3 linked regions of the Homo sapiens genome follow. The protein of the gene in region 3 interacts with the protein of the main gene of each other region in a pairwise test. Each region holds a gene or a part of one and is shown on either strand. Other genes may lie near its edges. The genes, in order: PRPS1, NUP58 and SYCE3.

Region 1 (3,654 bases), on a different chromosome or scaffold from region 3:
CTCACGCCTATAATCCCAGCACTTTGGGAGGCTGAGGTGGGCGGATCACCTGAGGTCAGGAGTTCAAGACCAGCCTAGTCAACATGGTGAAACCCGTTTCTACTAAAAATAAAAAAATTAGTCAGGGTGTGGTGGCTCACACCTGTAATCCCAGCACTTTAGGAGGCCAAGATGGGTGGATCACCTGAGGTCAGGAGTTTAAGACCAGCCTGGCCAACACAGTGAAAACCCATCTCTACTAAAGTATAAAAATCAGCCGTGCATGGTGGCACACGCCTGTAGTCCCAGCTACTCGGGAGGTTGAGGCAGGAGAATCACTTGAACCCGGGAGGCACAGGTTGCGGTGAGCCAAGATCACGCTACTGCGCTCCAGCCTGGGCAACAGAGTGAGACTCCGTCTCAAATAAAAATAAAAAAAAAAAATTAGCTGAGTGTGGTGGCAGGTACCTGTAGTCCCAGCTACTCAGGAGGCTGAGGCAGAAAAATTGCTTGAACCGGGAGGCAGAGATTACAGTGAGCAGAGATCGTGCCTCTGCACTCTAGCCTGGGTGACAGAGCAAGACTCCATATCAAAAAAATATATATATATATATATATATTTATATTACACTATTTCATATCTGCAGATTTGGTCTTGGGACCAATCCCCTGTGGATACTGAGGGATGACTTTACTATACTTCTATAGACAATAAGGTCTAAGAACAGCTTCCCTACTAGTATGCTGTGAATGGTTACAGCTACATGTGGATATTGATCACCTAGGCTTCAGGAGATCCTCTGAAGGAGCCTTATACCAGAAGCAGTTCACTGCCTCAGTTTACTCCAGTGCACTATACAAATATTACCATTTTCTATGGTAATATTTTCTAATATTACCATGTGACAGACACGAAAAAGATGCATGAAATGGTTGGCACATGTTAGTCTAAAGTACTTACAAATAACCGGACCATAATTTTAGCAGGTGGCCTGTATCTCATTTCATATAGGTACATGTGATGTACATAAAATTTGATGCATCACCTATTACTGTTACAGAGTCCATAAATAGCAAAAGAAGTAGAAATATCATAAGGAGTGAATCACTACTGTTCTATAATGACACTTTAACAAAAGACAGTACCACCTCTACCATACTGGCAATTTACCCAGTAAATATTAAATGTTCATATGCTCATCACTGTACTAGATGCTAGGGAAACAATGGTGAATAAAATGTGGTCCTTGCCCTCATTCTGTGTTAACTGTACTCTGGTCCAATTACTAAGTAACTCCATAGGAATTTACTCTAAGTATGAAGTAGGGCTATATTTTACCACGAAAGTTTCAGTGCCCATACTCGGGTCTCTACCAAGAAAAAAAAATCACCTCTCCTGTTCACCAGGTTTAAGAAAAAAAAAAGAAAATAATTTAAAAATTTTTAAAAATCACCTTAGTGATACCTCAAACAACATTATATTCCAACTAATCCTCTAGGTGAAGGAGAGGTGTATGTGTGTATATAGACAAGTAGATCAGAATGGCTGACAATACCTATTGAACAAGAGAAAACTTCAGTTCAAATCAAAAGGCAATAGAGTTATTAAATAAAAGATCCATACTTCTATCTCACTCTAAGCACTATCTTCTGTGTGGCTTCAGGAACTACCTACTGTCCTATTTCTGTCAAGATCACTTTTACCCACCCTTCTCTCCCCAAACAAAACTTCAAGGAGAACTCCAAAAGGGACTTATATGAAAACTGGCAGAGGCAATTCTATTGCCAGAAGAAGCTGACATAGGAGATAATTACTTATTTATTCCTTTCTAACCCAAGATGAAAGGGAGCTGGGAGTGGTGGCACACACCTGTAATCCCAGCTACTCAGGAGGCTGAAGCAGGAGGACTGCTTGAGCCCAGGAGTTCAAGTCTAGCCTGGACAACACAGGAAGACCCTCATCTCAAAAGCAAGAAAAGACAAATGGGGTTAGTTTATGTTGTAAAGCAAGAAAAATAAAAGCAAGTGAAAAAAAATCAAACTAGAAACCAATTAAAATCAAGGAAGCTGAGATTCCTGGCAGCCAGAACAAAAAAGAAAATGCACTAGTTTAGGATAAACCTTTTTTAAGACTGGACGCAGTGGCTCATGCCTGTAATCCCAGCACTTTGGGAGGCCAAGGCAGGCAGACTGCCTGAGCTCCCCATTTCAAGACCAACCTTGGCAACATGGCGAAACCCCGTCTCTACCAAAAAACACAAAAATTAGGCGTGGGGACATGCATCTGTAGTCCCAGCTACTCAGGGGGCTGAGGCAGGAGAATCGCTTGAACCTGGGAGGCGGAGGTTGCAGTATGGGGAGATGAAGCCGCTGCACTCCAGCCTGGGTGACAGAGCGGGACTCCGTCTCAAACCAAACAAAACAAAACAAACAGGCAGTGGTCATTTCAAGGGACTTTTGGGACGTTTTCAGTTTTTTTTTTTTTTTTTTTTTGAGACAGTCTCGCTCTGTCGCCAGGCTGGAGTGCAGTGGCACGATCTTGGCTCACTGCGACCTCCACCTCCCGGGTTCAAGTGATTCTCCTGCCTCAGCCTCCCGAGTAGCTGGAACTACAGCCGCACGCCACCACGCCCAGCTAATTTTTTGTATTTTTAGTAGAGATGGGGTTTCACCATGTTGGCCAGGATGGTCTCGATCTCTTGACCTCGTGATCTGCCCGCCTTGACCTCCCAAAGTGCTGGGATTACAGGTGTGAGCCACCATGTCTGGCCCAGATCTTTCTTTACTACTAGCTCTGCCCTTCGAGAGATTTCAAGCTAAAAGAGTCACTTTTAGGTTTTATGTTAAACAAGTCTGTGGTTGGGAGGCAGAGGCAGGAGGACCGCTTGAGCCCAAGAGTTTGAGACCAGCCTGGGTAACATAAAGAGACCTCCTCTCTACAAAACAATTTAAAAATTAGGCATGGTGGCAAGTGCCTGTGATTGCAGCTACTGGGGAGACTGAGGTGGGAGGATTGCTTCAGCCCAGGAGTTAGGAGCCATGATCATGCCACTGCACTCCAGCCTGGGTGACAGAGTGAGACACTGTCTCAAAAAAAAAAAAAATCAGAAAATTTTAATGCTGCTCACATTCATCCTCCATATATCAGCTCCTTGACCAAAATATGCATTTCCCTGGAGGAGAATGAAAGTCAGGCAGGCATATTGATTTCCAATCATGTATCAGAAGCCTATGGCTCTTGTTTCAGTCAAGAACACAGAGTATCATCTGTGCTCCAGACATTCACTTGCCAGAGTCAGGATGTTTGATTAAAAGTTGGAGAACAAATGAACAAATGTAGTTTGACAATTGATATCAGACAGTATAAGGGACAAGCTATTCTGCTATGTTTTTAAAACTTTATCATTATCGCTGGGCACGGTGGCTCACGCCTGTAATCCCAGCACTTTGGGAGGCCGAGGCGGGCGGATCACGAGGTCAGGTGATCGAGACCATCCTGGCTAACACGGTGAAACCCCGTCTCTACTAAAAAATACAAAAAAATTAGCCAGGTGTGGTGGCGGGCGCCTGTAGTCCCAGCTACTCGGGAGGCTGAGGCAGGGGAATGGCGTGAACCTGGGAGGCAGAGCTTGCAGTGAACCGAGATCAAGTCATTGCACTCCAGCCTGGGAGACA
Region 2 (3,654 bases), on a different chromosome or scaffold from region 3:
GCTCATGAGACAAGTATATTTCTTCTTTCATGAACTGCTTACTTGTGATTTGCACACTTTTCTTACGGTATTTTTCTTATATATTTCTAAGAGCTATTTCAACATTAAGTATATTATTTGTCTCATTTACATAATTTAATATGTATTTCTAATATTAGACTCTTGTAAGATGTATCTCAATTTCAGAGATGTTAAAATGTGAAAAAATAAGCACCTAAAAATCAAGCATTTTGGGCAGACTGCTTGAACCCAGGAATTGGAGACCAGCCTGGGCAACAGGGCAAAACCCTGTGGCTACAAATTTTTTTTTTATTTCTGAGACGGAGTCTCACTCTAGTGCCCAGGCTGGAGTGCAGTGGCGTGATCTCAGCTCACTGCAACCTCTGCTGCCCAGGTTCAAGCAATTCTCCTGCCTCAGCTTCCCGAGTAGCTGGGATTACAGGTGCCTGCCACTGTGCCCGGCTAGCTTTTGCATTTTTAGTAGAGACGGGGTTTTACCATCTTGGCCAGGCTGGTCTTGATCTCCTGACCTCATGACCCACCTGCCCCGGCCTCCCAAAGTGCTGGGATTACAGGCGTGAGCCACTGCGCCTGGCCAAAAAATTTTTTAAAAATTAGCTAGGCGTGGTGCTGCGTACTTGTGGTCCCAGCTACTTAGGAGGTTAACGTAGGACAATCACTTGAGCCAGGGAGGTGGAGGTTGCAGTGAGGTAAGATCACACCACTGCATTCCAACCTGCATGACACAGCAAGTCACTGTATCCCAAAAAAAAAAAAAAAAAAAAATCAAGCATTTTACTTTCCTCATTTACCTTTTACCTCTGCACATGGGGTTTTACTTTTTTACCTCTTTCATCCAACTGTAATTTATGTTTCCATGTTTTGTATTTTATTAAGATTTTTTTCTTTCATATTTAGTATCTCTAAAATTGCCACCTATCTTCTATAGACGTCCTAGATTTTATGAGACATGGAAATAAAAATAAGGATTTCATTTTATGTTTCTCCAAATAATTCACCAACTTTTAAATTGACTAGCATATTATTTCTTTGATATGACATTTTATTATATTTTGTAAATACTTACATACACACAAACATGTATATAAAAAAAACTTGAGCCTGTTTCTACCATGGATCCCTGATTACCATGGACCCCCAATTAATCTACCTAGCTTTGCCTCAGTAATACACGTGGAGCTCTACAAAAGCTTCCTAACAGTTCTCCATGACAATTCTTGCCTTCCTGAATGCTATTTTCCATATGGCTGTCAGAATGCTCTTAATCTTAAAATACAAATCTCATCAAATCCCTTTAATAGACCCAAATTGCCTGAGGTATTAATATAATGACAAAACTCAACATGGCAAATAAGGACTCCATGACTTCTGGAACCTCATCTTTCTGCTCTATGGCTAATCTGGCCTTCTATCATTTCCTCAAAAGGGTCAAGGTCCTTCTCATCTCTAGTCTCACTTGACGCTGTCCCCTCTTCACTGAATGCTGTTTATTGCTACTCTCTATCTGGTTAAATCCCACACTGGTACTGCAGGGCCCAAGCTAACTGATACAGCTACTAGAAACACAGAAATCATTTGGATTAAAAAAAAAGAATCCCTTGATATAAGCAATAGATAAAAGGGAACTGGGATGTAGTAATCAGAGATCCATAGTAGAAACACACCCAAGTTATTTATATACATGTTTGTGTGTACATAAATATTTATAAAATTTAATGTCATATCTAAGACATTTATTTCATTTATTGTATATATTCTCCTTGCTCAACTCTATCTTAGGTACACTATGAAAGCAGGAAGATGTGGGGAGGGGCAGAGGAGGGGAGATTAATTTCTTACATTTATCTTACTCTTCTGCCTTAGCCTGCTCTTTGAGCCTAAAAACAATTATAATAGAGAAGTACTCTCATGCTTAAAATAAAAGTAATAGAAGTGGTACCAAGCTATTCCACTTGAGTAAACAAATAAGCTGCTAAGGCTGCTTTCCTAATTATGGAGTTGCTACAGAGAAAACTAAGTAAAAACAAACTTTGTTTAGAAATTTGTCAATTTTCACTGAAAGAGAAATCTAAACTTTGTAAAAGTTTAAAAAGGTTTTACCAACTTTAAAATAGTAATTCACCCTAGAATAGTATCTCCTTATAATAAAACCTGTGTCCAGTTTTTTAAAAAAAAAGTCATATAGATACACAGATACTATTTCACAGCTTCATCCATTTATCTTTCTTCAGAGAAGTTCAATATGTATATATATACCCTAGTATATATGGTATATATTCTAGTGAAACATGCTTTCATCAGAAGCAGAAGAGATGGTGCAAAACAAAGTAACACAAAAAACAATGAAAACATTTTCAAAATGAATTTGGATTAGCAAATTTTTAAAACCAAGATTCAACGTGGCAAGGGCACAGCAAGAAAGGTATTTTCATACTGGTTAGGGGGTAAACTGGTAAAATCTTTCTGGGAAAGCGATTTCACAAACTATACACTAAGAGTCTCCAAAATATCCCTCTCTTTAAGCCAATGATCCAATTTCCAGGTATTTTCCCTAAGAAATAACCAAAAATATAAACAAGCATTGATAATAAAAGGAGACACCTACATGTCTGGCTCTGCTAGGGTTTTACAAATAGTAACCCTCAAACCATTTAACAGATAAGGAAAAACCAAAGCACATAATATAAGTAACTTCAATAAGGTCAGAGAGCTTATAAGCAGTTGAGCCAGGATCTGAACCCGGGCAATTCCACTCCAGAGCAGACACTCTTAAACTACTATATTATGTTGCCTTTTTAGATAAATGCCCAGTGTTTTACTTCCCAAAGTAAAACATCTGGAAATAAACATCTAACAAGAGAACAATGGTTGACTAACTTATCCATCCATAAAACTGATATTAAGCAGCATTAAAATATTTAAAAAGAGTTACTGACAGACAAATGCTTCTGATGTTAGATAAGAACAGACTACAAAACAATACTGCATATGTATCATGATCCCTATTAAAAAATACATATTCGTATACACATTAAGATAGCTAACTGTTACTACTAAATATATAACTGCTAATCTTCCACACAAAGGAATTTTGAGCAACCTAGACATTCCCTCAACAGAACTGTTAAAACATAAAGTTACAACAGCATTACTTACTCTTTTTATCTGAGGAGCTACTGAAATCTATACCACCAAGGCCTTCATTGCCTGCAGTTGAAGTAGCTGCTGTAGTTCCCAAAGTCAACCCTAAAGCATTCTGTCCAAGTCCTATAAATAAAACATAACTTATAAATTCCATCAAAAGACTACAACAATTTCCCCTTACTGATCAAAGGACTCTAATGCTTTTAAAGTTGGATCCTAGATTTTCTTCATATTTGATTTAGGCAAACAACAAGAAACAAGCCTGGAGATGTTTTGGCCAAAGACTGATAACCTTTCTTGAATTCGATGGCATATGCAGTTTGGATGATGCGATTTTTCATTATTACGAGGGCCAGAACATATATCAATTCAGTATGTAGGCACTCAATCTTCACTTGTTATAAAGGGGTTTTGTTACAGAGGGCTTTTAAACCCTCTCTACAAAAGCAGTTTCAGTTGGTGTATTTTCAGGTGAATACATCTTGTCTT
Region 3 (3,654 bases):
ATCTCTTCTAATAGCTTTTCCAAGTCCTTATTCAGATCTGACAGCATTTTCAGCATGTTGTCATAGTTTCTTTCCTCAGGGTCAGCATCATCCATCTAGGCAATGCACAGAAAGAAGCTGCAGTCAGACAGACCTACATTTCAAATCCAGCTCCACTGGTTATAACTCAGTGATTTCTCTAAGGAATTCTTTCCCCATCTCTCAGATTCAGACAATACCACGTACTCCACAGGGCTGTTGTGAAGGTTAAATGGGAACATGTCTAAAGGCCCCAGCATAGCATTCGGCACATATAAGTTGTCCTTCCCCTTTCTTCCATCTTTGCCATACAAACGTAGCTGAAGGCTGGAGTCATTAACACAGAAAACATCTTCATTATAATGAAAAAAGTCTGTCATAATGGTGACATGGAATTTTTTCTTGCAAAACCATATTGAGTACCCACTAAGATGCAAGCTATTGTGCTGATGTGTTTCAAAGATACAATTCCTGTACCTAAGGAATTTCTAGTGCAATATGGGAGTAAGTCACACACACCATATGACAAACCAGGATGTGACAGATGTCGAAGCAGTTAATGTAATAATTACAGACATCAAGCGATGGGAGCCTGGAGGCGGGTACGTTTAATTTTAAAATATGAAATGATTCATACATTAAAAAAAATTATAATCAACTTAACTTTCCAGAAGAATTCTCCTGGGCATTAGAGGCAGTGCCCCATAGAGACTGTCCTGGTTCTGGAATTGAGCTGCCTGGGTTCAAATCTTGGCGCTACCTCATATCAGCAGTGTTACTTTTGGCAACTTACACATCTTCTCGACAAATTTTTGGTAATTTTTTTGAGTTTTTTTTTTTTTTTTGAGACGAAGTTTTGCTCTTGTTGCCCAGGCTGGAGCACAGTGGCACGATCTCGGCTCACCACAACCTCTGCTTCCTGGGTTCAAGTGATTCTCCTGCCTCAGCCTCCTGAGTAGCTGGGATTACAGGCAAGTGCCACCACGCCCGGCTAATTTTGTATTTTTAGTAGAGATGGGGTTTCTCCATGTTGGCCAGGCTGGTCTCAAACTCCTGACCTCAGGTGATCTATCCACCTCGGCCTCCCAAAGTGCTGAGATTACAGATGTGAGCCACCACACCCAGCCAAGTTTTGTATTTTTTAAACGGGAATTATTAGTATTACCTATATCTTGTGGAGTTTTGTGAGGATTAATTGAAATAAATTATATACTGTTCAGCACAGTACCTACCGTAATGAGCACTTAATAAATCATATCCGTTGTTATTTAAAATGTTGAACAGTAATTACATCACTCCAGATCCTCTCCTCACCTTTATTAATATACATTAATTCATTCTGTTAATATTTGATGCTCACCTATTTATCTACAAGGCACTAGTAAGAAAAGAGAGAAATAGATAAATAATGTAAGAGCTGCCAGGGAACTTGTAACCTCATGAAGGTGAAGGAATGAGCCAGGTAAGCATAAAACAGGGAGGGATGGGCCACAGATGCTGCGGTATTGTTCCCACTGTACATGTGGGGAAAGCCTTCCTGGTCTTTACTTCAGAGTTAAGGGCCTCCACTCAGTTCTCCTGTGACTTCCTGGGCCTCCCTCATCACGGTGCCTCTTAGCTGGTATTGTGATTGTGGATTCCTCTACCTCCCCAACTAGACTGTGGGGTCCTGGAAAGCAGAGGCCATCTTTCCAATGAACTATTCCTAGTGTTCAGCTCAGAGCTAGGAAAACAGCAAGTGCTTAATAAATGTTGGCTGAATAAAGGAGTTGACCATTGTAAAGCTCTAATTCTGAAAGAAAATCATGATCGTGGCCAAGCGCGGAGGCTCATGCCTGTAATCCCAACACTTTGGGAGGCCGAGGTGGGTGGATCACCTGAGGTCAGGAGTTTGGGACCAGCCTGGCCAACATGGTGAAACCCAGTCTCTACTAAAAATATAAAAATTAGCCGGGTGTGGCGGCAGGTGCCTAATCCCAGCTACTGGGATTACTGGGGAGGCTGAGGCAGGAGAATCGCTTGAACCCGGGAGGTGGAGGTTGCAGTGAGCCGAGATTGTGCCATTGCACTCCAGTCTGGGTGACAAGAGCGAAACTTCATCTCAAAAAAAAAAAAGAAAGAAAATTATTATCTTTCCCCTCTTGCCGTCCTCCCTGTTAAGGGTAGAGATTCTGAGGGAGGAGCAAAGGGCCCTCCAGGAGGCCTGACAGGCAGATCTGAGAATGAGGGTGCAGGGTCAGGGTGTATGGTCTTTCGGGATCTGTAAAGGAGGTACTTCTGTGGGCATGGAGCCATTCCACGTGCAGGGACTCCGTCCTGCTTTTTGGTAAGTAGGAATAGTTTGCTAAGAGTAAGTGGGGAGGTACAGGCAGGTGGCAGGGCAGGGGGCTAATAGTGGGTGATGGGAGGAAGAAATGTCCAGAACACCTTCCTTAACCCTCTCCTATAGCTATTCCCTCTCCTTCCTTTAGCAGCCAGGCCTCACACGTTTGTCTGTCCTCCTCACTCCACTGTCATCTGGCATCTGTCTCTGACATTCACTGACAATGCTCTCACCAAAGTCATAACTGGCACACCCAGGGCACTTTCTGTCTTTCTTTTATTTAACATCTCTGCAGCACTGACATTTGGCCATTTTCTCCTGCTCAAAATTCTCTTCTCTTGATGTTTTAACCTTGTTCTCTCCAAACTCTGTCCACCTGTGGTAGTTCCTTCCCTGCTCTTTCTTGGCTCTCTCCTTTACTGGCTCTAATGGGTCAAGGAAGGTCCTTTTAGCCCCTTCTCTTCTCACTACACACTCTTTTTTTTTTTTTCTTGAGACGGAGTCTCACTCTGTTGCCCAGGCTGGAGTGCAGTGGCGTCATATCGGCTCACCACAACCTCCGCCTCCCAGGTTCAAGCAATTCTCCTGCCTCAGCCTTCCAAGTAGCTGGGATTACAGGTGCCCGCCACCATGCCCAGATAATTTTTGTATTTTTAGTAGAGACGGGGTTTCGCCATATTGGCCAGGCTGGTCTCAAACTCCTGAACCTCAGGTGATCCGCCTGCTTCGGCCTCCCAAGTCCTGGGATTACAGGTGTGAGCCACTATGCCTGGCCAGAACTTCGATTTTTATTCTGAATGAGATGAGGAAACACTGGAAAAATCTGACAAAGGTGATGTGATTTGAATAATGACTTAAAAGGATCACTCTGGCTTCTGTGTTGAGAATAGACTAAGGGGTGGAAAGCATGGAACAGGGACATCATTTAGGAGGCAGCTGCAAAACTCCAGGTAAGGAATGATGAGGCTTGGACCAGAGTGTTAGAAGTGGAGGTAGCCGCCAGGCTTAGTCGGTCATGCCTGTAATCCCAGCACTTTGGAAGGCAGAGGCGGGGGATCACAAGGTCAGGAGTTCGAGACCCGCCTGGCCAATATGGCAAAACCCCATCTCTACTAAAAATACAAAAATTAGCTGGGCATGGTGACGGGCGCCTGTAGTCCCAGCTACTCAGGAGGCTGAGGCAGAAGAATCCCTTGAACCCAGAAGGTGGAGGTTGCAGTGAGCCGAGATCATGCCACTGCACTCCAGCCTGGGTGACAGAGCAACACTCTGTTCCAAAAAAACAAAAACAAAAATAAATAAAAAGTAACCAC

The links.
Region 1: the proteins of SYCE3 (region 3) and PRPS1 interact in binary tests that used the Homo sapiens proteins (3 or more experiments, as listed by UniProt).
Region 2: the proteins of SYCE3 (region 3) and NUP58 interact in binary tests that used the Homo sapiens proteins (3 or more experiments, as listed by UniProt).

What each region holds. Positions count from the first base shown.
Region 1 is NC_000023.11:107,634,875-107,638,528, reverse strand, and holds part of PRPS1 (ribose-phosphate pyrophosphokinase 1), read right to left. Parts: intron 1-3,654. UniProt on the Homo sapiens protein: Catalyzes the synthesis of phosphoribosylpyrophosphate (PRPP) that is essential for nucleotide synthesis.
Region 2 is NC_000013.11:25,314,991-25,318,644, reverse strand, and holds part of NUP58 (nucleoporin p58/p45), read right to left. Parts: intron 3,289-3,654; coding exon 3,178-3,288; intron 1-3,177. UniProt on the Homo sapiens protein: Component of the nuclear pore complex, a complex required for the trafficking across the nuclear membrane.
Region 3 is NC_000022.11:50,556,311-50,559,964, forward strand, and holds part of SYCE3 (synaptonemal complex central element protein 3), read right to left. Parts: intron 96-3,654; coding exon 1-95. UniProt on the Homo sapiens protein: Major component of the transverse central element of synaptonemal complexes (SCS), formed between homologous chromosomes during meiotic prophase.